7 linked regions of the Homo sapiens genome follow. The protein of the gene in region 2 purifies or fractionates together with the protein of the main gene of each other region. This does not show direct contact. Each region holds a gene or a part of one and is shown on either strand. Other genes may lie near its edges. The genes, in order: CGRRF1, EYA2, TIMM21, GPI, GMPPA, ETFB and ACAD9.

What was found.
Region 1: the proteins of EYA2 (region 2) and CGRRF1 purify together in Homo sapiens (affinity purification with mass spectrometry, with the first as the bait; one large-scale study listed by BioGRID). This does not show direct contact.
Region 3: the proteins of EYA2 (region 2) and TIMM21 purify together in Homo sapiens (affinity purification with mass spectrometry, with the first as the bait; one large-scale study listed by BioGRID). This does not show direct contact.
Region 4: the proteins of EYA2 (region 2) and GPI purify together in Homo sapiens (affinity purification with mass spectrometry; one large-scale study listed by BioGRID and IntAct). This does not show direct contact.
Region 5: the proteins of EYA2 (region 2) and GMPPA purify together in Homo sapiens (affinity purification with mass spectrometry, with the first as the bait; one large-scale study listed by BioGRID). This does not show direct contact.
Region 6: the proteins of EYA2 (region 2) and ETFB purify together in Homo sapiens (affinity purification with mass spectrometry, with the first as the bait; one large-scale study listed by BioGRID). This does not show direct contact.
Region 7: the proteins of EYA2 (region 2) and ACAD9 purify together in Homo sapiens (affinity purification with mass spectrometry; 3 studies listed by BioGRID and IntAct, with this or other methods). This does not show direct contact.

What each region holds. Positions count from the first base shown.
Region 1 is NC_000014.9:54,523,406-54,526,905, forward strand, and holds part of CGRRF1 (cell growth regulator with RING finger domain protein 1), read left to right. Parts: intron 1-3,500. UniProt on the Homo sapiens protein: Able to inhibit growth in several cell lines.
Region 2 is NC_000020.11:47,187,094-47,189,344, reverse strand, and holds the end of EYA2 (protein phosphatase EYA2), read right to left. Parts: intron 1,293-2,251; coding exon 1,212-1,292; 3' UTR 501-1,211; downstream 1-500. UniProt on the Homo sapiens protein: Functions both as protein phosphatase and as transcriptional coactivator for SIX1, and probably also for SIX2, SIX4 and SIX5.
Region 3 is NC_000018.10:74,155,023-74,158,522, reverse strand, and holds part of TIMM21 (mitochondrial import inner membrane translocase subunit Tim21 precursor), read right to left. Parts: intron 3,379-3,500; coding exon 3,316-3,378; coding exon of another isoform or gene 3,299-3,315; intron 3,218-3,298; coding exon 3,120-3,217; intron 510-3,119; coding exon 436-509; intron 353-435; coding exon 247-352; intron 148-246; coding exon 43-147; 3' UTR 1-42. UniProt on the Homo sapiens protein: Participates in the translocation of transit peptide-containing proteins across the mitochondrial inner membrane.
Region 4 is NC_000019.10:34,378,696-34,382,195, reverse strand, and holds part of GPI (glucose-6-phosphate isomerase), read right to left. Parts: intron 3,263-3,500; coding exon 3,191-3,262; intron 2,679-3,190; coding exon 2,634-2,678; intron 731-2,633; coding exon 677-730; intron 1-676. UniProt on the Homo sapiens protein: In the cytoplasm, catalyzes the conversion of glucose-6-phosphate to fructose-6-phosphate, the second step in glycolysis, and the reverse reaction during gluconeogenesis.
Region 5 is NC_000002.12:219,504,690-219,507,489, forward strand, and holds the end of GMPPA (mannose-1-phosphate guanylyltransferase regulatory subunit alpha), read left to right. Parts: intron 1-164; coding exon of another isoform or gene 165-179; intron 180-538; coding exon 539-673; intron 674-768; coding exon 769-866; coding exon of another isoform or gene 867-1,025; coding exon 1,026-1,072; intron 1,073-1,290; coding exon 1,291-1,383; intron 1,384-1,564; coding exon 1,565-1,733; intron 1,734-2,008; coding exon 2,009-2,109; 3' UTR 2,110-2,300; downstream 2,301-2,800. UniProt on the Homo sapiens protein: Regulatory subunit of the GMPPA-GMPPB mannose-1-phosphate guanylyltransferase complex; reduces the catalytic activity of GMPPB when part of the complex. Mediates allosteric feedback inhibition of GMPPB catalytic activity upon binding GDP-alpha-D-mannose.
Region 6 is NC_000019.10:51,352,889-51,356,388, forward strand, and holds part of ETFB (electron transfer flavoprotein subunit beta), read right to left. Parts: intron 1,955-3,500; exon of another isoform or gene 1,751-1,954; coding exon of another isoform or gene 1,421-1,750; coding exon 1,262-1,420; intron 403-1,261; coding exon 244-402; intron 1-243. UniProt on the Homo sapiens protein: Heterodimeric electron transfer flavoprotein that accepts electrons from several mitochondrial dehydrogenases, including acyl-CoA dehydrogenases, glutaryl-CoA and sarcosine dehydrogenase.
Region 7 is NC_000003.12:128,882,620-128,886,119, reverse strand, and holds part of ACAD9 (complex I assembly factor ACAD9, mitochondrial), read right to left. Parts: intron 1,468-3,500; coding exon 1,374-1,467; intron 1-1,373. UniProt on the Homo sapiens protein: As part of the MCIA complex, primarily participates in the assembly of the mitochondrial complex I and therefore plays a role in oxidative phosphorylation.

The sequences.
Region 1 (3,500 bases), on a different chromosome or scaffold from region 2:
GACCATATAGGAACCATTAGAATTGTAAAGAAAGAGATGCTTAAATTTGTTAAGGTGAAGAGGCATATTCAGGAAAGCCTTCATAAAAAAGAATATGCTGAGTCTCTCTTACTTTTTTTTTCTTTATTCCTTCCTCCTTTTTTTTTTTTGAGTAGAATCTTGGAAGATAGGTGTTTACTTCGTGGATGAGAAATGGAGTGATACATTAAAGAAACAGTAGTTATGGCTAAAGCATAGGATGGGACAGGTAACAGAGGAGTCTAAGAAGACTCAGGTTCTTCCTATGGGTCCTCCATAGCCAGATCCTGTTAGAAAAATGAGGAGTACAGAAAGAATAGCAAGTTTCCAAAGAAAGGCAATGAATTCAATTTTGAACTTTTGGACTTTGAAATTCTTTCGTGACAGTTCAATAGAAATAAAGAGTAGGCAGTCCTAGATACAGTTCTGTAGCTTTTTTTCTGGGCCGAGACCCTGTCCCTTCTATACTTGCTTACATTTCTGGTTTCTTGAAAACAAATAAGCCAGATCTTTCTCTGCTTTTCATCCTAGTCTAGCTACTGCCGTATTTCTCTTCTTCCCCTCACAGCCAGCTTCTTAGAAGCTGTTTGCATTTTCCTTCTCTTAGCCTGCTTCATTTTTACTCCTCAGTGCAGTGCAGTCTGACTTTTCCCTGTATCCCTTTACTGAAATGGCTTTCTCTGAGGTCACTAATTACGACTTCTGCCCTGCACTTTTGACCCCCAGCAGTCATCAAATCCAGTGGGAGCCTTTCAGGGCTGAGTTAATGCTCTCTCTCTAGTATTTTACAGAGTTGACCTTCATTTGCAACGTCCTGCTCCCTTGCGTCTATGGACCATTCTTGTCTATTCATCTTTCCTGCCTCTAACTCTCAGAATCTAATAACTGGTCAGAAATCAGTTTACTTAGTCAAATAGATCATCAGGCTTAAGTAAATCTTGATTTGTAAGGAAAAATATATGTTTTTTTTTTTTTTTTTCGAGACAGGCTCTTGCTCTTCCACCCAGGCTGGAATGCAGTAGTATGATCATACCTCACTGCAGCCCCAATACCCTGGGCTCAAGTGGTCCTCCTGCCTCAGCCCCCTGAGTAGCTGGGACTACAGGTGTGCATGACCGTGCCTGGCTAAATAAAAAAAAAAATGTTTTTTGTGGAGATGGGGTCTTGCTGTGTTGCCCAGGCTGGTCTCAAACTTCTGGCCTCAAGCAGTCCTTCTGCCCCAGGCTCACAAAGTGCTGGGATTACAGGCGTGACCCACTGTTCTTGGCCCCAAAAAGTACAAAATTTCTTATTCATCCTCTTTAGCTGTAAATACTATTACCCTATGAATTGATGGAAACTAGGATCTCGGCCACTCCCCTCCCCGCTCCTTCCCTATAATAGATAACAGTTCATTCTGATATTTTTTACTTGAGAAAACCAAATTTTGAGATATGACACAGATAAAACTAATTTGTTTAAAAGATAGTAGGTTGTGCATGCCTGATTAAAGTGTACACCCAGCTACCAGCTACTCGGGAGGATGAGGTGGGAGGATTGCTTGAGTCCAGGAGGTCGAGGTTGCAGTAAGCCGTGATCACACCACTTCACTTCAGCCTGGGTGACAGAGTGAGACTCTGTCTCAAAAAATAAAATAAAAAATCAAGTGTACAGCATAGTGGTGGTTCAATAACCTCCCACCTCTGTGGCCATAGGCTAGAACCTGCTACAATGTCACATCTGGCTCTTGAGCAGGACCCGCAATGAAAAACCTACCAGCTGCAAGGCCTTCCTTCCTGCAGTACAGTTCCACAGGTCTGAAAATACACTGAAAAACTAAGAAGAGCTGATACATTGTGAGCAAAACACAGGGCACTTGTGAGGCAGAAAGTGTGAGGAAATCCATCAATCTGCTTTTCAGGCAGAAATAGTCACAAATAGAACCAGCCTTGCGAATGTTTGAGGCAAATGAAAAGATAGCCAGTAAGTAGCCCTCTTAGCTATGCCTGCACACTAGTTGCTAACCAACAGTAGTATTACTGAAGTCATGAAAAATTATTTAAATGTGTGGATGTACAGCATGAATACTGAAATATTTTAATTTTTAAAATACCGATGCATATCATTTATTATCTTTCTCCTATGGGGAAATAGAAGGATTTTGATAGGAGTTATACTCAACAGAGTAAAATTCATTTGTTTAAACTGTGGAAAAGTGGGTATCATTAAAGATGTCTATACAGAACATTAAAATAATATTGTAACAATATTTGTGACATTTAAAAAAGTTATTTCATTTGATGTGTAGATAGTTTAAAAATCTTTTTTTCACCACTGTACCCAAACTGCCTGACATATAGCAGAAGAGGGTGAATAATCTAGAGACCTGATTTAACTTGAAAATAAACCAGAGGCTGCACGTGGTGGCTCATGCTTGTAATCCCAGTACTCTGGGAGGCTGAGACGGGCGGATCCTTGAGTCCAGGAGTTCAAGACCAGCCTGGCCAACATGGCGAAACCTCATCTCTACTAAAAATACAAAAATTAGCTGGGCGTGGTGGCACATGCCTGTTAGTGCCGGCTACTCAGGAGGCTTAGGCTGGAGGATTGCTTAAGTCTGGGAGGTTGAGGCTGCAGTGAGCTGAGATCATGCCACTGCACTCCAGCCTGGGCAACAGAGTGAGACCCTGTCTCAAAAAACAAAAACAAAAAAACACACATGCTTTTTATTTATATTTAAGATTTTTTTTTTTTTTTTTTTTTTTGAGACGGAGTCTCGCTCTGTCGCCCAGGCTAGAGTGCAGTGGTGCAATCTTGGCTCACTGCAACGTCTGCCTCCCAGGTTCAAGCAATTCTCCTCCCTTAGCCTCCTGAGTAGCAGGGACTACAGGTGCATGCCACCATGCCCAGCTAATTTTTTGTATTTTTAGTAGAGACAGGGTTTCACCGTGTTATCCAGGATGGTCTCAATCTCTTGACCTCATGATCTGCCCACCTCGGCCTCCCAAAGTGCTGGGATTACAAGTGTGAGCCACTGCGCCCTGGCCATATTTTAAAATTTATAATTAAAAAAAAAAGAAAACCAGAGAATCGATTTTAATCTGAGTCATTTAGTTCTGTTTACTAGGGGTGGGTTGCTGGGATTTTTTTGTTGTTGTTATTATGTAATGATATATTTGGATTTGCGTTTCCATGTCTCCAATATAGAGTCTTTAATGAAATTGAAAGTTAGATACTCAGTGTATATAAGTTGAGTTGAATTAATTTGATTCAGGAATTCTGCTTTTTGTAAATAGCTTCCTTATATTTTAGCTTATTCACTCTGGTAAGAGCTAACATTAAAGCAAAAGGGTTAGAAAAAAACACAATGTACATGGCATGTTTGGAGGCGTTTGTGAACCTCCATTCTCTACAACCTAAAACTTTCATCTCCCAATACTCTGGCTTTATTATCCTCATGAATGGTCTCCTTGTTTTATTACTGCTTCTCTCACAGGGATCCT
Region 2 (2,251 bases):
TTCTTTCCCTTGGAGGATCAGCTTGTTCAACTTGCTGTTCGTGACAGGATCCAACCCTAAATCCAGCTCCGTGAGTTGCCTAAGCCTCAGATTTGGCCAACGAGTTACAGTCCTGAGGCTTTCGCTGCACCACGGTGAAGAATGTGGTCTCTTTCTGTCTGTGTGGTTTTGCTGAAGGACTCGTAGAGCCGTCTTTGCCACACAGGGAACAGCCTGCCTGAGAATTACGGCCACATGAGAGAAATTCATTTGACCACCCGGATCCAGACAGATACCACCTAAAGTTCCTGGAGACACTTGTCCCTTTGTCCTTCTTCCCCTCCCTTTCTGCCTCCCTCCTTTTCTCCCTCTTCTCCTTCCTCCCTCCCCCCACCCCATTTTTCTTGGCTTAAGCCAGTGTGAGTTGGATTCTATTCTTCTGCAACTGATAAAGTCTTTAAAAAGGACAACACATTTGGAAGCCTCAAGAGTGGTAATAAAGTAACCACATCCTACCCCACTTCAAAATGTAAACGTGGTTTTATTTAATGCCTTTTATCCATCACAAAGCACCCATTCCTTCCCAGCATCCCCCTCTTCCTAGAAAACAAGATGTAGCGTAAGGCACGTGCACTGTCCACATGACGTCAAGTAGGTCTTTAAAAACAAAAATAAGCAATAGTCTTTTCAACAGCTTGAACTGCCTTCCTCTCTAATGTTCAAAGAATGATTGTCCCCACAAAGCACAACTTGGAGAATAGAGTGCTTACATTAGAACTGTGAACCACCCCACATACCAGTTCAAAAAACCAAACCAAACCAACGACTAAGAAACCCAGCCACACAGGTACAAGAGCATAATTCCGGAGTAATGAGACTAGTCCATAAATTAAAAAGAAGACAAGACAAACCCATCCCCTCCTCATCACCAGGCACCCCCCAAATCAGCAATTCCTTGCTTTTGTTCTGTGAGTCTTACAGAAGAGTCTAGACTCCGAGCCAGCCCTTTTCCCCAAAGTCAAATACTCCGAAGCCAATGTTGGGTACTTTCCTTCTCAGAACCCCCATTTGGACTGATGGACGGCTTCTGAGATGGTCACTGGACACGTCGTCTCGGCTGTGGGGCCCCTTCCTGGTGTCCAACATCTGGGTCTCTGGAGTTCTCGGTGGGGAGGTGGGGAAGGCGAGGGGGTCTGAGGGTGAGATGGCAGGTGGAGATGCTGCTGATCCTGCTATAAATACTCCAGCTCCAGGGCGTGCCTCAGTGCCTCCAGGTCTGCGTGGCAGGATATCCGCCAGAAAGGCATGTTGTGCTGAAACACAGAACACCAGCCACAAGGTTATGGCCCCGCCCCTGCCCCCGGGTTCCACGCCTGTGGTTAGAGGGCATGTGAGAAGTCAACCCAGTTAAGTCTAGCACGTGGGGACTTCCCAAACTATGGGGCACTTGATGTTGCTGGCAGACCCACATCTGGCCAGTACCCACCAGTATGGCCAACCATTTCTATTCAGAGCCTGCTCTGACGGGCTTATCCAGCACTGCCCAGCGTGTTCGCTGTTTGACCCTCTCGCCTCTGTTGGTACCAGCGTGGTCTTAGGCGGTGCACTGACATGGTGTTAAATTGCACAATGGGAAAGCGATTCCTTTTTAAAAATTTGTTCTTGCCTGGGCACTGTGGCCCACGTTTGTAATCCCAGCACTTTGGGAGGCTGAGGCGGGAGGATTGCTTGAGGCCGGGAATTGGAGGCTGCAGTGCTCTGAATCCTGTTACTTCAAGAAGAAAGTCACAGCTCGGTGCTGGAACCCCTCCCCAGCATTGACAGTCTCCACTGTGAACAAACAGAGCTGGTCTTGGAGAGTCTTCAGCAGGCCACTGTAGCTAGCCAGGTCAGATGACACTAATCTGTTTTCTTTATAGCTTTCGTTTTTATCTTTTCCTTTTCTTTGCAGCAGGTGGTACCTGCTTCAAGTTATTGTCATGATGTGGAGTTTTTTTTTTCTTTCTTTCTTTCTTTTGAGACAGGCTAGAGTGCAGTGACATGATCTCTGCTCACTGCAGCCTCAACCTCCCAGGCTCAAGCGATCCTCCTACCTTAGCCTCCCGGGTAGCTGGGACAACAGATGCATGCCACCACATCTGGCTAATTTTTGTATTTTTTGTAGAGATAGGGTTTCACCATGGTGACCAGGCTGGTCTCAAACTACTGGGCTCAAGCGATCCACCCACCTCAGCCTCCCAAAGTGTTGGGATTACAGGCATGAGCCATTGTG
Region 3 (3,500 bases), on a different chromosome or scaffold from region 2:
GTAGCGAGTCCACGCCATTCAACATCCATCAGAAACCCTATTTTAATCATCTTGGGATCGATTATCTTCAATGATAATAGTTCTTCTAGGATAAGATTCAATTTCTACAAATATATATCGAAAATCATATTCACCACTTCCTGGGTTCTGAAAAAAATGTAGTGTTTCCAGGTATTATTTTCCTTTCCAGAACTTAAATAACACCGCGCTCAGAACCTCTGACCCCACATCCCATGATTCCCACACCTCTTTCACTTGCGCATACACCGTTCCTTGCTTCCCTGGCTCAGAGCCCTCAATGTAGAATTTCACACACGTGTGTTTCAGCCCATCTTTTACATATTCAGTGAACCTGTCGAGAAAACGAAAGATCAGTCTAAGTTCCTTTCATTTAAAAATCTCCCCAGAGCCTCCTCTGAATTCAAGCCACAGTACCTGACATGCTGCCGGCGACCCCGCCTTGTCACCTCCCCATAGCCTTTAACAGACTCACCAAAGACACCGATCACCTGCAGAACAAGGACAGTGCTTTATTTTGTGTTATTTTTTTAAGCTTCTAAAGAAATAATTTTTAACAAACCAGATGATTTTAGGAAAAAAAAATCAGTAAGCTTAGGACCTTTTCAAAAATGACCACTCCTGGCTCACGCCTATAATCCCAGCAATCTGGGAGGCCAAGATGGGTGGATCACAAGGTCAGGAGTTCAAGACTAGCCTGGCCAACTAGGTGAAACCCCGTCTCTACTAAAAAATATAAAAATCAGCTGGGCATGGTGATGCGCATCTGTAGTCCCAGCTACTCAGGAAGCTGAGGCAGGAGAATCGCTTGAACCCAGTAGGCAGAGGCTGCAGTGAGCCAAGATCGTGCCACTGAACTCCAGCCTGGGTGACAGAGCGAGACTCCGTCTCAAAACAAACAAACAAACAAACAAATAAAAAAATGACCACTCCAATAAGAAAACTGAAAAAAGGGTTATTATACAAAAATCATCCCATAAATAATTTAAACAAATATTTCATGCACAAAGATTAAAATAGGTAGCTTTATGGTGTGACTTGTAGTTTCAAAGCAATGTAGGTTGACATGACGCAGTTCCTGCTCCTCTTACAGAAAACAAACATAACAACACAGAGTTCAGATGTTTCTCTACTAACCCCTTATGGTTTGAAGATAAAATGTATGAACATTTTTAATGAAATGTAATTAATTAATAGCATCTAATACTAAAACTATGAGATCAAAAAATTTTTAAAGTTACCAAACACAGTGAGGAAAAAGAAAACAGATAATGACATTTAAAATAAATCAGAGCTACAGGTGTGAATCTACTATTTCTAATGAGAAAATCCACATGAAGTAGAAATGTAGTTTTTATTGAATTCAAAATGCAAATACTGTGGAACCCTCTAAAAAATATAAATTTGATATTAAACTAAAAAAGTTTGACCCTCAACTCTACGAAATTTATCTTATTTTGTCTGTTTGTGGAGTATCTTCAGTATCACATTTTCCAGGATAAAAAGAAGTAATATGTAAGATGATATTGCAGAATTGTATAGCACAAACAAATAGAACAATTTACTTTAATCTATTAAACATATAAATATCAACATCCATCAAGATTTTGTTTTTCAAGCAGACACAGTACCCAGCAAAGAGAAGGGTACCCCTTAAAAAATGTTGACAAAATTGTTAAAGTTTAATTATTATTTGTAGAGTTTTTTCAGGCAGCAAATGAAGTTACGACTTCAATAATATCCCACTTTTGTATATTCTTGTGGAGTTTTTTGTTCAAAATGCTGAAAAATCTACGAAAGGCTGAGTTTGCGAATAAAACAGCAACTCTTCATCTCTTTCCAGAGATGCGTCCTAACATTTAATGAGGTTACCACCCACAGGTATTTCCGGAGTCTGTAAAGAATGTTTCTTGTCAGATAAAATTTGGATTCCCAGTAACTATTATGGGAACGAACCTTCCTTATTTCCTGGTTTTCACCTCTGAGATACTTTATCCTCCCTGCCTTTCTCCATGGTTACCACTGGCTGTCCAGAGCTCAATGAAGAGAAATCAGTGGATTTAAAAGGAAAGATGCCAGAGATCGTTAGCTTCTGAGGTTTCCACCCTGACATGATTAGAAAACTGGTAGAACATTCAGAGCCGGGGCCCCAGGGAAGATCAGCACCGGGCTCTATACTGAGCACGCTGTGGATTGAAATCTTTCTCCTCTTCAGGGGCTGCAAATGCGAGCTATGACATTACTCCTTGGTCTGTGTGAAGAACAGCCCTAATATTTATGATGATAATGGCAGACGATTACCTGCTGTTATCTTTCAGGGTGAATGAAGTTGTATTTCAATGAGTAATATTTTCAGTGCTGAAGGTCTGCAGCAGGGAGTAAGAAATCTGACACTTCCCAGGCCACACCGGCTACGTGTGACTGGAAGGTCACATCTAAAGCCTTCCTTCTTGACAGGGTCCTTCAAAGAACCAAGGCAGCTTCCCCATGTCCACTCCTCCCAGGGAAGGGTAGAGGCAGACTGTGCTTAAGAGCTTAGATTTGGAAGCAAATTTTGGATTTGTGTGGATTCGGGTTCCGGTTCCCCCACTTACTAGCTCAGTGATCCTGGTGAAGTTACTTAATCTCTTTAAGTGTCAGTCTCCCCTTCTGCAAACTGAAGACAAAGTAGTGCCGAACACAAATGGTTTTTGTGAGACTGAATAAAGATGATGCACTGAGACCCTGGGCAGAGTGCTTGCACGGACACATTTTCGGTAAGTGTCAGCAATGACATTATGACCATGAGGTCATGCATCAGGCTTTAAAAAGACTAGAAACTTACCATGAGTTCAATATTTTGGTGTATTCTAAAAATTTAGTATCTATGAACAACCAGCAAAATGACTGTCTTGTACAATTAGCATGAAAACATCTGTACACTGACTTTTGGGTTCTCTTAAAGAGCAAAGACCTAATAATGTAATGATGACTCGACCATTATGTATTATTATGTGAATTTCACTAGCGTGAGAACTGGTTCTTGAATTCTGCCCACTTCCTCCTCCCAGACATTTTCTCCCCCTCATCAGAGTTCATGTAACTCAATCTTGAGAACTAACCTCAGGATGTGATCTGCATTTTTCTAAGGCTCTCCCATATATCTTGCTAGGACTGGATGAAGAAAAAAGTTCTTTGAAAATCGTGTAAAACAAGCCACCTGAAATCACAGAAAACAAAGATGAAGCGAAGCAAGGGCAACATAAAAAGTCCAGTTTAAAAAATATTCAAGGGCTTATACTTGCTGTTTTTTGCAACCTGTAATGCTGATTCCAAAAAGCACCACTATTAAATAGGTAAAATCTCTTCCGGCTTCTTTCACTGTGAAGAGAAAACACCAATGGGTTACGGGTGCCGGCTGGGAGCAGGCAAGCTTGTCTGCTGCTTTTGCACTTCTTGCGAGAGAAAAGCAGCCTCCAGATCAAAGCAAGGGGTCTGTGTGT
Region 4 (3,500 bases), on a different chromosome or scaffold from region 2:
CACAGTGCCTGCATCACACCCTGCACTGCACCCCTGCACCCTGGGCTTCACAGTCAGAGCCCTCCTCACACCACTGCTGAGCTCAGGCAAGTGCACAAGGAAAGCTGTGGCTCACTGCTCGGCTCCAGCAGAGGTGGTCCCATGGACCACCTGTTGCTACAGAGGGGTCGGCAGCCCTGTCACTCAAGGCAGGGTTTGCTCTGCAAGCTGCCCCAGCCTGGCGCCTCCTCTACGCCACCCCCCCAGCTCCTCCTGCAGCTCCTGTTGCTCCTTTCCAGGCCTACCCGGTCATACCTCATGCCTCACCCTGCCCTTGGCCTTTACAGATGGTGGCTGCAGTTCAGAGAAAGGTCATCACTGAGAATAACTCACAACCTCAACTCTGTGAGCGTGGCAAGGGGGACTCGGGTTACCCCACAGTGGGTGTTGCAGGCAGGCACCCAAGGGAGTGTCATGTGGCCCTGCAAGCTCAGCCCGCCCTCAGGTGGAAGTGGAGCCCTCATCCTGCCTGGGTTGCTCTTGCCCTCCAAGCCTCTCTGAGGGCCTCTCTACCTTTCCCCAAGCTAGGTATGCAGCAGGTACTCAATAAACACTGACCTGACCTCATGGGCCTCTCAACAGCCATGACTTGGCAAAGGACACTTAATTCACCCAGTGCAGAAGTGCTTGTACTTACATCCCAGAACTCGAACATGTTTTGAGGGTCAATTCCAAACTCCTTCACTTTGGTCTACAAAAAAAAAAACAAAGGGAGAGAAATGCAAAGAAGCATTTGCTAGCGGGATGGGAACAGGAGCTCCGGGAGGCAGGGAGCTGTGCTCCGTGAGCTGAGCCTCACCTTCCCCAGAGCCAGGGATGGGGCAGGGCTGGAGCAGCCTGTGAGTCGAGGGCAGGGCCCAGGATCTGCCCACCCCAAGCTGGACACCAGATCAGTCCATGACCAGCACGCCAGTGACGTTGTGCCTGCAAAGCCCCCTGCTGAGGGCAGCTGTAACCCCGTGTGAGGACCTGGCCCACACACTGCTCTGCAACAGCTCTCACCCAGGCCTGCCTGGGACACCAGAGCATGATACCCCTGGACATCTGGGAACCGAACCTAGGACTGGGACCCAAGTGTGGGCAGGGGCCACCTACCAGGCCAGGCAAACAAACACAGGCTGAACAGCCACCCAGCCCTTCCCATGTGTGGGAGGGTGACTGCACCAGGAAGCTCTGAGGAGCCATCAGGTATTCTGGTCCCCAGGGCAGACAGGGCCAGCAATTCCTTACCTATTCCACATAGGAGGAGAAGCCCTACTGACCAGTCAGTTGCAGGCAGGCAACAGTGCTATGGTTAGCCAGCCTTATGGCGTCCTGCTGCAGCTGGGTAGGCACTGGAGGCAGAGATGTGGGGATGATGGTGGAGGGGGTGGGAGGGAGATGTGGGTGTAGTCCCCAGCTCTGACACAGCACAGTGCCCACTGGCTGACTGCTGCTGTCACTCCTGGAGCATCCCTCACTCTGTCATGCCCTGCTGAGCCTGCACAACCTCGAGGCCAGGCAGACTGTGAGAACTTGGAGACAGGAGACCCAGGTTCTAATCCTGGCATCACCTACTCATACAGTCACTAAGTGGGCCGGGTACAGTGGCTCATGCCTATAATCCCAACACTTTGGTAGGCCGAGGTGGGCAGATCACTTGAGGTCAAGAATTCGAGACCAGCCTGGCCACCATGGAGAAAACCTGTCTCTACCAAAAATACAAAAATTACCTGGACGTGGTAGTGGGCGCCTGTAATCCCAGAATCAGCAGGCTGAGGCATAAAAATTACTTGAACCCAGAAGGCAGAGGTTGCAGTGAGCCAAGATCGTACCACTGCACTCTAGCCTGAGTGACAGAGTGACCTTGTCTCAAAAAATAAGCTGGACATGGTGGCACACACCTGTAATCCCAGCACTTTGGGAGGCTGAGGTGGGCAGATCACTTAAGGTCAGGAGTCAGAGACCAGCCTGGCCAACGTGGTGAAACCCCGTCTCTACTAAAAATACGAAAATAGCTGGGCATGGTGGCGTGCACCTGTAATCCCAGCTACTCGGGAGGCTAAGGCAGGAGAATCGCTTGAACCTGGAAGGCAGAGGTTGCAGTGAGCCAAGATCACGCCACTGCACTCCAGCCTGGGCAACAGAGTGAGACTGTCTTAAAAAAAAAAAAAAAAAAAAAAAAAACAAAACCACACACACTAAGTAGGGGGCAAAATGTCACCTCCCTTCATTGGGGCTTTATGTCCTTAAGTGAAAAATGGAATGCATCCTCTACCCCTACCTAGCATGTCACATTTGGGGAGATGCTGGGCACAAAGGCCTAGGAAGGTCATGTGTATGAAGGGTTCTGTGTATCAGTCAGGCCTGGGAGACGGAAGAAGGGGTTATCGTGATCCCACTGACTCCAAGCCTCCCTCCTCAAAGCTGCAGAGGTTGAATGGGTAAATGCGGAAAAGGCAAGGAAGGCTTGCAGCCCACAGGCAACCAAACCTTCCATACCATCAGCCAAGCCAAGATCCACCAGACCTACGAACCGCGTCTCTGAGAGGCCATGACCTGGACATGCTGGGCACTCCCAGGAAGGCAGTACAGGGGACCACGGGGGCACTTACTGTGTTAGTAGACAGGGCAACAAAGTGCTTCGCCACTGCAGAAGGCTACAAGAGACAGAGCCAAGTTACCACAGCCAGCCCAGGGAGACAAAGGGTAGTCACTTCCCATCACTAGAGGAACCAAGGCCCTGCATGGGACTGAGATTCCCAGTCCTTGGTTCTGAGACTGTTGGAGAAGGCCCACATCGAGGTCAAGGTCAAGAAAGCAGACGGGTCACAGGCCGCCTGCTCATCCCATCTTACAAGCATACGGGGCTCAGGGACGTCCCTCCCCTATAAAATAGGTGTGGCCAAGAGTTCCTGCAGCGCCAAGGGCCTGCAGAGAAAGGGCCATGCAAGGGCTGTCAGCCAGCGAGAGCAGGTTCTGTCACATCTGCAAGGCTGGGTCTGACAAAGCCAAGATGAACAATCATCTCATCTAGCAAAGGCAGGCACCGGCAAGGCCGCCTTCACTTCCAACTTCAGGAGAAACACGGCCAGACTTGGTCACTCAGGGGCCCACCCTGCTCTTCCCAGCCCAGAGGCTAACCACGAGGAAGGCCCTATAGCCCACTCACATCCTTGGCCGCCTGGAGAAACCACTCCTTCGCCGTCTCTGCATTCGTGATGGTCTCCTGGGTAGTAAAGGTCTGCAACCAAAGAGAACAGCAGTGGGCGCCCGAGCTTAGGGGTGGGTGCAGGCCTTGAGCCAGGGTTCAGCAGTAGAGGCCAAGGCAATGCCCAGCTGTCCCATGGAGCAGTATTTGCAGGTCAGTGACAGTGACGCCACATAACCTCCTGAGATTCCAGCTCTTTAAAACCAGAGGAGGGGGGACGGTAAACACACCCCCCAACCCTAAGCCTGCAGGTCAAAGGCCGCAGCTTCTC
Region 5 (2,800 bases), on a different chromosome or scaffold from region 2:
CGCCCCATCTAAGGCCTCCTCTGCTCATAGCCATTTCTCACTCCCACCCGTGTCTCTGCTTCCCTCTCCATCTCTCCTGGCCTCTCTGTCTCTGTCTCTGCTGAGCTGGCATCTCTACCATCTCTCTCTCCCTTTCTTTCTGTGACTGTCTCTGCCCTCACCAGCTGCCTTGCTCTGGGGTGAGTCTGTCTGTGTTTCATTCCATCCAATGAGGGGGAGGGTAACTTGGAGGGGGTAAAGGGCTGAATGGGGATGAGAATGTGAAAATGGGGGGAACTCCTTATGGAAATGGGGCAGGGATGGGAAGCAGGCCTCTGCCTGGGGCTCCCTTGTGATAGCACCCACCCAAGTGGGGGCTGGGTGGGAGAGGTTCCTGGGATGTGAGCAGCCACATCCCAGAGAGGGCCGAACCAGACCTGGAGAGAGGGGCTTAGAGAGGTGGTGGGAATCCTCCTACTCCTGTCCCTGGGAGACTGTGTTAGCCCCACAGTCGGGGCTCAGCTGGGGGACTAATGTCAGCATTCTTCCTCTCTGCCAGGGAGGACTCACCAGGCTTGTGGCCAGGGGCAGGTACCATCCGCCTAGAGCAGGATGTGTTTTCAGCCCTGGCAGGGCAGGGCCAGATATACGTGCATCTCACTGATGGTATCTGGAGTCAGATCAAGTCCGCAGGGTATGGAAGGCTGGGTCCCCTGGGGATTGAAATTTTGGGGTGGTGGGCACAGGCCCTGCTGACCCCTGAGCCCCTGTCCCCCTTGCGGTCCCCAGTTCAGCCCTCTACGCCTCCCGCCTCTACCTGAGCCGATACCAGGACACTCACCCAGAACGGCTGGCCAAGCACACCCCAGGGGGCCCATGGATCCGAGGTACCCAGCCTGCCCCAATTCCTAACCTTTGGCTTCCACCCCAGCCCTCTGAACCAGGATTCTTGACCTCGAGTCCAGAGTTAAAGCCTCAATCCCTGCCCCTTCCTGATCAAATTCGGTTTGGGATATTTGCCCCCAGGGCCTCTCTTCTGCTTCTAGGGAATGTGTACATCCACCCGACCGCCAAGGTGGCCCCCTCGGCTGTGGTGAGCACTGGTCCCAGCCCCAGGGAGGGAAGGGTGGTGGTCGGATGGATGGAGGGTGCCCACGCTGCCTGAGTTCTGGGTGCCGGTTTCTTCACTTTGTCACAGCCTATTGTGTGTCCTCGAGCAGGTCACTTATGCCTTATCTGTTCTAGAAGGGAGTTGGGTTTGGGGATCCTCCAAGTCCCTCCAGGGCTTATGGTGTGTGCTTCTCTCCACAGCTGGGCCCCAACGTCTCCATCGGGAAGGGGGTGACCGTGGGTGAGGGTGTGCGGCTCCGGGAGAGCATCGTCCTCCATGGAGCCACTTTGCAGGTAGGTACCAGCATACACAGCAGCATGTGACACCCCAAGAGGCTGCGGGGAGGGCCCAGGCATCCCCCCAAGAACAGAGAAGGGTGAACGCCGTGGGCTCTGCATCTGGCCACACCTCACACCCTCCGGTTCCTGCTGCCTCCTGCCTCTTCCCCTTACCTTTCACTGTCCTCTTTGGCAGGAGCACACGTGTGTTCTGCATAGCATCGTGGGCTGGGGGAGCACCGTGGGACGCTGGGCCCGCGTGGAGGGTACCCCCAGTGACCCTAACCCCAACGATCCCCGAGCCCGCATGGACAGTGAGAGCCTCTTCAAGGACGGGAAGCTGCTGCCTGCTATCACCATCCTGGGTATGGCTTCCTGGGGGCCAGGGCTGGGGGAACCCCTCAGCTGATGGCCAGTGGCCCCGGGGAGCATTCGTTCCTCTGTGTGCACGCGTGTTTCTTCTTTTAGCAAACAGTTACCAAGGGCCTGCTGTGTGCCAGGCCCTGTGTGAGTCACCGGGGGCATGAGACCAGGGGCACAGATGGGCAGGAGGGCTCCCTCCCTGCTGGCAGTGGCCCCCAGCTCCCTGCCCCTGTCTCCCCTCCCATGACCTCCCCTGGTGCCCTCATCCATGCTGCAGGCTGCCGAGTCCGGATCCCTGCCGAGGTGCTCATCCTGAACTCGATTGTTCTGCCACACAAGGAGCTGAGCCGAAGCTTCACCAACCAGATCATCCTCTGAGTAGGGCTGCCAGAAGGCCCCCAGCTCCTACCCACTCCCCTTGAGGCTGCTGCCTGCTTGGCCAGCCTCTGTCCAGAAAGGACCAGAGAAAGCCAGGCTGGATCGTCACATGCCGGGGAGCAATGTGGATGGCCTGGGGACTCCTGGGTTTTCTCCCTCCCGACTCCCTAATAAACCCCGTGAACCTTGGAGCCAGCACAGACTGTACTTATGTCTGGGCTGGGGGTGGGGGCGGAAGCGGGGCAGCTGAGTCAGGCCCCCCCACATTAGCATTTAAATTGGAGTCGTTGCTGTGGGCTCATGAATAATGAATCTGGAGCCCTGGTAAATCTCCCCCTCCCACTGCCTCAGCCTCGTGCTGCTCGGGAGGAAGGCCCTCTAGGCTCCCCTGCCAGCCTGGTCCCCCCCTTCACCCCTGCCTCCCTGCCTCCCTGTTCCTCCTCACCGGGCCTGGCTCAGGCCCCCATGTGCAAGGATTCCGAAGGGAAGGGTGAAGGATTTTGGTTGGGCAGCAGGCAGAGGAACTGGGGCCACAGGCCTAGAGGCTGATCCCCACAGCCCGCTCTGCTCGGTTCCCGCTGAGCCCAGCCCTGGCCGGTTTTCCGCTTTGCCAGCTCCATCTGCTCCCAGCTTGGCTTTTGGCAGGGTGGGGGTTTTGCCTCTGCCCGAGGCCTCATGTCTCTGTCTTCTA
Region 6 (3,500 bases), on a different chromosome or scaffold from region 2:
AAGTGCTGAGATTACAGGCGTAAACCACCGTGCCTGGCCCAAGAGGATCTTTCTAACACCCAGAGGGACTCTGTCCTCCCTGCTCAAACTCTCTGTCAGAAGGGTCAGCAAAGTCCCAAGCTGCTCAGCCTGGAGTGGTGAATGCCCTGGGCCTGGCCAGCTGCTGTCTCACCCCGTATCTCCACCACCCTCCTCCCGAGCAGGGATGAGCAAGGGGGCACAGGGAGGGCTGACCACAGCTACCTGTTTGCCCAGCAGCACCAGGTCCACCTTCTCCTTCTCTGCCAGCTTGGCCAGGACCCGAGCCACCTGCAGGGGACCCAAGCGTTCTGCTTCTGCTGGGGGCACCTCCACGTGGATACCTCGGTCTGCACCCATGGCCAGGGCGGTACGAATCGTCTCCTGCCAAGGACAGAGGGGCTTGACTTGGCTGCTATCCTCAGGGGGACCTAGGAGTCTGGCTCGCAGCCCCTCCTTCCTCAGACCCAGGAGTCCAGGGCCCCATCCCCTCCTTCCTCAGACCCAGGAGTCCAGGCCCCCATCCCCTCCTTCCTCAGACCCAGGAGTCCGGGCCCCCATCCCCTCCTTCCTCAGACCCAGGAGTCCGGGCCCCCATCCCCTCCTTCCTCAGACCCAGGAGTCCGGGCCCCCATCCCCTCCTTCCTCAGACCCAGGAGTCCGGGCCCCCATCCCCTCCTTCCTCAGACCCAGGAGTCCGGGCCCCCATCCCCTCCTTCCTCAGACCCAGGAGTCCGGGCCCCCATCCCCTCCTTCTTCAGACCCAGGAGTCCAGGCCCCCATCCCCTCCTTCCTCAGACCCAGGAATCCAGGCTATCAGCCCATCCTCCCTCAGACCCAGGGGTCCAGACTTCCAGCCTCCTCCTCCCTCAGACCCAGGAGTCCAGGTCCCAGCCCCTCCTTCCTCAGACCCAGGAGTCCAGGGCCCCATCCCCTCCTTCCTCAGACCCAGGAATCCAGGCCCCCATCCCCTTCTTCCTCAGACCCAGGAGTCCAGGGCCCCATCCCCTCCTTCCTCAGACCCAAGAGTCCAGGCCCCCAGCCCCTCCTTCCTCAGACCCAGGAGTCCAGGCCCCCATCCCCTTCTTCCTCAGACCCAGGAATCCAGGCTATCAGCCCATCCTCCCTCAGACCCAGGGGTCCAGACTTCCAGCCTCCTCCTCCCTCAGACCCAGGAGTCCAGGTCCCAGCCCCTCCTCCGTCAGACCCAGGAGTCCAGCCCCCTCCCCAAGACCTTCATCACCTGGCACTGTGCAGGCCCACAGCTGACGGCGATGACCTCCTTCACCAGCTTCTTCTCCTTGAGCCGCACAGCCTCCTCCACCGCGATCTCACAGAAGGGGTTCATGGAGTGCTTCACACCATCCGTGACCACACCGGTCCTGTCAGGCTTCACTCGGATCTGCCCAGCAGGAGGGGAAGGGGTGGGGTCAGGAGGAAACAGGCAAGAAGGTGGGGGCCTCAGCGCCAACCCTCTCCCAGGCTGGATGAGGACAACGACAGCCTGGAAAGGGGCAGGGCCTTGTCCGGGGTCACACAGCTCCAGGGACAGAACTGGGTTAGAGTTTGTAGGCAGGGGCAGGTCACCCTGTCTCCTTCTCTCATCCAGCCATTCCTGGGTACCAGGGACATCTGACTTGATCATCCCTACTGTTGTCACTGCTCCTCTCAGGCCTGAAAGAGTGTTTCTCAAATTTACAGTATTTATGGTAACCCACAGTGAGAGGTACATTTTACTGTATCTCCAAGTGTATATAAATACATAATACACTGATACATAAATACAAATGAGGAGAAGAAAAGGAAAAACCAGTTAGGTAGACAGTTAAGGGTGGTCCTCAGAGGAGCAGCCTGCCTGAAAAATCACAGCTACAGGCAACAATAGAGCAGCCTGGGGAAAACTCAAGCTGCCCAGCACAGAAGCCTTTTGTTCTTTGCGTGACTGACAGGCTCCCAGGAAAAGTTCCCTCCCCTTTTCAGGCACGTACATGGTGGTCTCTGTGGGAACTTGCACGGGGAGGGGCGGAGCTTACCTAAAACAAACCCACGGTTACAGAAACAAGAGAAGCGGAGCTTTGTGCTTGCCTAAAGACGTACCCACAACTACATAGATAACGGAGAGTTATGCAGATAGCTTTACAGATAAGATACTCAAACAGCTACAGAGATGAAAGGAGTTTCTTATAAAAGCTTTTGGTGTCTTTTGCTGTGCAGAAGCTCTTTAGTTTAACCATCAGAGTGAACAGGCAACCTACAGAATGGGAGAAAATTTTTGCAGCCTACTCATCTGACAAATGGCTAATATCCAGAATCTACAATGAACTCAAACAAATGTACAAGAAAAAAACAAACAACCCCATCAAAAAGTGGGCGAAGGATATGAATAGACACTTCTCAAAAGAAGACATTTATGCAGCCAAAAAACACATGAAAAATGCTCATCATCACTGGCCATCAGAGAAATGCAAATCAAAATCACAATGAGATACCGTCTCACACCAGTTAGAACGGCGATCATTAAAAAGTCAGGAAAGAACAGGTGCTGGAGAGGATGTGGAGAAAAAGGAACACTTTTACACTGTTGGTGGGACTGTAAACTAGTTCAACCATTGTGGAAGTCGGTGTGGTGATTCCTCAGGGATCTAGAACTAGAAATACCATTTGACCCAGCCATCCTATTACTGGGTATATACCCAAAGGATTATAAATCATGCTGCTATAAAGACACATGCACACATATGTTTATTGCGGCACTATTCACAATAGTAAAGACTTGGAACCAACCCAAATGTCCAACAATGATAGACTGGATTAAGAAAATGTGGCACATATACACCATGGAATACTATGCAGCCATAAACAATGATGAGTTCATGTCCTTTGTAGGGACATGGATGAAGCTGGAAACCATCATTCTCAGCAAACTATCGCAAGGACAGAAAACCAAACAACGCATGTTCTCACTCATAGGTGGGAATTGAACAATGAGAACACATGGACACAGGAAGGGGAACATCACACACCGGGGACTGTCGTGGGGTGGGGGGAGGGGGGAGGGATAGCATTAGGAGATATACCTAATGCTAAAGGACGAGTTACTGGGTGCAGCACACCAACATGGCACATATAAACACATGTAACAAACCTGTACGTTGTGCACATGTATCCTAAAACTTAAAGTATAATAATAAAAAATAAATAAATAAATAATTTTTTAAAAAAAAAGCTTTTGGAATCAACTGTAAAAATGGCAACCCGCTTGGGCTTCCCTCTCCTCTGTGGAGAGCTTTCTTCTTTTGCTTATTAAACTTTCGCTCCAACCTCACCTTTTGGGTGGTCTATGCTCTTTAATTCTCTTGGTTGTGAAACGAGCTCGGATAACACCTTAGACAACGTGACCAGTGACCCTGACCTATTTCACAAATGCCACTGCAGTGTAAGGGTCAGTGACCAATACTGACCCTGCCTACACACACACCATA
Region 7 (3,500 bases), on a different chromosome or scaffold from region 2:
GAAAAACAAAAACAAAATATTTTTCATTAAAAATATTATGTTAACATGTAATGGATTTATTATTTTTAAACAAATGAACACAGTATATTTTATTTTTTTTTTTTAGACAAAGTCACACTCTGTCACCCAGGCTGGAGTGCAGTGGTGCAATGTTGGCTCACTACAATCTCTGCCTCCTGGGTTCAAGCAATTCGCCTGCTTCAGCCTCCTGAATAGCCGGGATTACAGGCACCCGCCACCATGCCCGGCCAATTTTTGTATTTTTAGTAGAGACAGGGTTTCACCATGTTGGCTACGCTGGTCTTGAACTCCAGACCTCAGGTGATCTGTCCCCGTTGGCCTCCCAAAGTGCTGGGATTACAGGCGTGAGCCACTGCACCCAGCCCCACAGTATATTTTAAATTTCTCAGTTTTAATTTCTAAGAGGGGCTAGGCATGGTGGCTCACACCTGTAATCCCAGCCCTTTGGGAGGCCAAGGTGGGAGGATCACTTGAGCCTAGGAGTAGAGACCAGCCTGGGCAATATAGTGAGAACCTGTCTCTATGAAAAATACAAAAAAATTAGCTGGGCATGGGGGTGCGCACCTGTAGTTCCAGCAACTCAGGAGGCTGAAGTTGGGGGACTGTTTGAGCCTGAAAGATGGAGGTGGTGGTGAGATGAGATGGTACCACCACACTCCAGTCTGAGCAACAGAGCTAGGCCCTTTCTCAAAAAAATAAAGTAAAATAAAAATAAAATAACCCCTAAGATGGCAAATATTGATAGATAAAATTCATATAAACAAAAGCTCTCCAGGATCCTACTATTAGGGAAGACCTGCTGTCCATCCACCATCACTGAACTCTCCACCAAGGCCCTGGCTGGAGGACCGGCCAACAGCTCTGAGAGAGGGACCTGAGGTCAAATGCTGCCTCACCATGCAGGTGCCAAACTGTGGCTGGTCCACAAATCACTCTTTGTTTACAATTACCAAAGTACAGAAATTGAAACTCAACCTTTAGAAACACTAAGAGCAACTGTACACTGCCACAACAACCAACACATGCTCCATGGGCTTGTATGGTGTGTGGCCTTGGCTTTTTGCCATCTAATTTTTTTAGTTATTCATTTTTATTATAGCTTTATGGAAGTGTTGACCTGGAACAGTATGGAAATGTTTAAAGTGCTCCTGAACCACAAATACAATGAGAAGCATTTAACTGGATGTTTTTTAATTAAATGGCAATAGGGATGAAACCTAAAGCAAAATATTATGAGTGGAAACCATTTCTCCCTCAAGAAGACTTCTCCTATGTATGTCACTTCTAATATAAATATCAACCAAATAGCCCTTACAATGGAAATCGGCAATGGTAAAGAAAACCATACATACCCTCTTCAGTGAAGAATTTTTCCACGGGTCCCAAGAACTGATTGATTTCATTAAGTTCATCTTGGCTAACTTCTGGAAATGGGAAAACTTCTTTCTAAAAATAGTAAATATTTTCTAAAAAATTTAATTTTTAGCACACTCCCATCACGGAAATATCAGTTAAAAGGGAAGGAAAAACATGTGCTCCACTCCACCCTGGCCAGCGGGACATGACGTACTGAAGGAACTGGAAAGCAAACCTCACAAGGTTCCTGAGATACAGAAACTATGTGCAGGCTCCACCACCCACATCCATCTCCCTCCCCTGTTCAAATAGGTTCTTCCCGATTTTCATCAGTTTTCCTTCTCAGTACAAGGGATGATAATAGTCCCATGAAACAAGGAGCCCAAGACTAACATTTAGAAGCCTGGGGGTCTGGTCCTTGATTTCAGGCTTACTCATTATGTGGCCTTCACCAAATCCCTTCAGCTCTCTAAACTACCCCTTTCTCACCCATAACATGCAGGTAATATTTACTCAAGGCCCTTGTGAGAATCGTGGAAGATAGTGGATGTGGAAACTCCTTACTGAAATGGACAATTCTACATCAATTATTGTGTGAGCTCAAAGATGCTATGCTGACAAGAGCACATCATGCTTACCAAGTCTCATCGATCCCTACAGCCGCTGTCTCTCCTGCTCACAGACATCTGCTCCCTGTGCTGAGCCCCTCTGGACTTTTGGGCTCTGCTACCCCTTCAATTGCCAGCATGACATGAGCTTTGGATGTGGGCTTCAGGCTGTTGAGCAGTGATGTCCTGAGTCAGAGCTATAAGCCCAAGCATCACCTGTCCTCATGGCGCCTCTCACCAAGTGTTCTAGAGAAGTCTTGGGGAGACCTCAACCTTCTCCTCAGACCTTGTACAGCTAATCAGCCAACAGATTTCTCTACTCTATCAATATGCTCGCACTGCTTTCTCCTCTCTGGGCCCAGGACCACAGGCTTATAGGTGAGTCCCTAACTAAAAGTGACAGCCAACTTAAAGGAATCCCTGCCTCCATCCATTCCAAAACCACCCTGAAGGTGGTATAGAAAAAAAAAAAGGTTGGAGGCCAGGCACGGTGGCTCACGCCTGTAATCCCAGCACTTTGGGAGGCCGAGGCGGGCGGATCACGAGGTCAGGAGTTTGAGACCAGCCTGACCAACATGGTGAAACCCCGTTTCTACTAAAAATACAAAAATTACACGGGCTTGGTAGCACGCGCCTGTAATCCCAGCTACTCAGGAGGCTGAGGCAGGAGAATTGCTTGAACCCGGGAGGTGGAGGTTGCAGTGAGCCGAGATTGCGCCATTGCACTCCAGCCTAGGTGACAGAGTGAGACTCCATAAAAAAAAAAGAAAAGAAAAAGAAAAAAACAAGCTTAGCTGGTTGCAGTGGCTACTGCCTGTAATCCTAGTCCTTTGGGAAGCTGACGCAGGGGGATTGCTTAAAGCCCAGGAGTTCAAAACCAGCCTGGGCGTGGTTGCACACGCCTGTAGTTCCAGCTACTCAGGAGGCTGAGGTGGGAGGATCCCCTGAGCCTGGGGAGGTTGAGGCTGCAGTGAGCTGTGATTGCACCACTGCACTCCAGGGTGGGCAACAGAGTAAGACACTGTCTCAAGGAAAAAAAAAACAAGAAAAAAAAAAAAAAACAAGCTGATGGCTCCATCACTCTGCAGCCTTTTATATCAAAGCTCAGTCTCCTTCACTGAACACAGAGGCTCACTGACACTTGGGTCTTGTGCAATGGGCTGTGTTAGAGATCATTCTGGTACCAGTGGGCAGGCCAGATAAGACTGCCTGGCAACTAATTGGCCTTCAGGTACAACCACAGAAAACCTGCCACACAGGAGAGATTGCAGGGGCGTGGGAGAAAGATCCTGATGTTATCAAATCAGGTCAATGCCTTAGGGGAGGAGAGTTCAATTGCAATAAACAGTTTGTAAATTATCTAAAAAAGTGGAACCTGTTATTCAAAGAAATCTAGTGCAGAAACCAAATATGTAAAACAGACAGAAGCAGGCGGCTCTGACTGAGACTGCTGATAGGGAAAACAGGCACCCAAATCCCACCCACTCAACTTCCCACCCATCCCTGCAGCAGTTC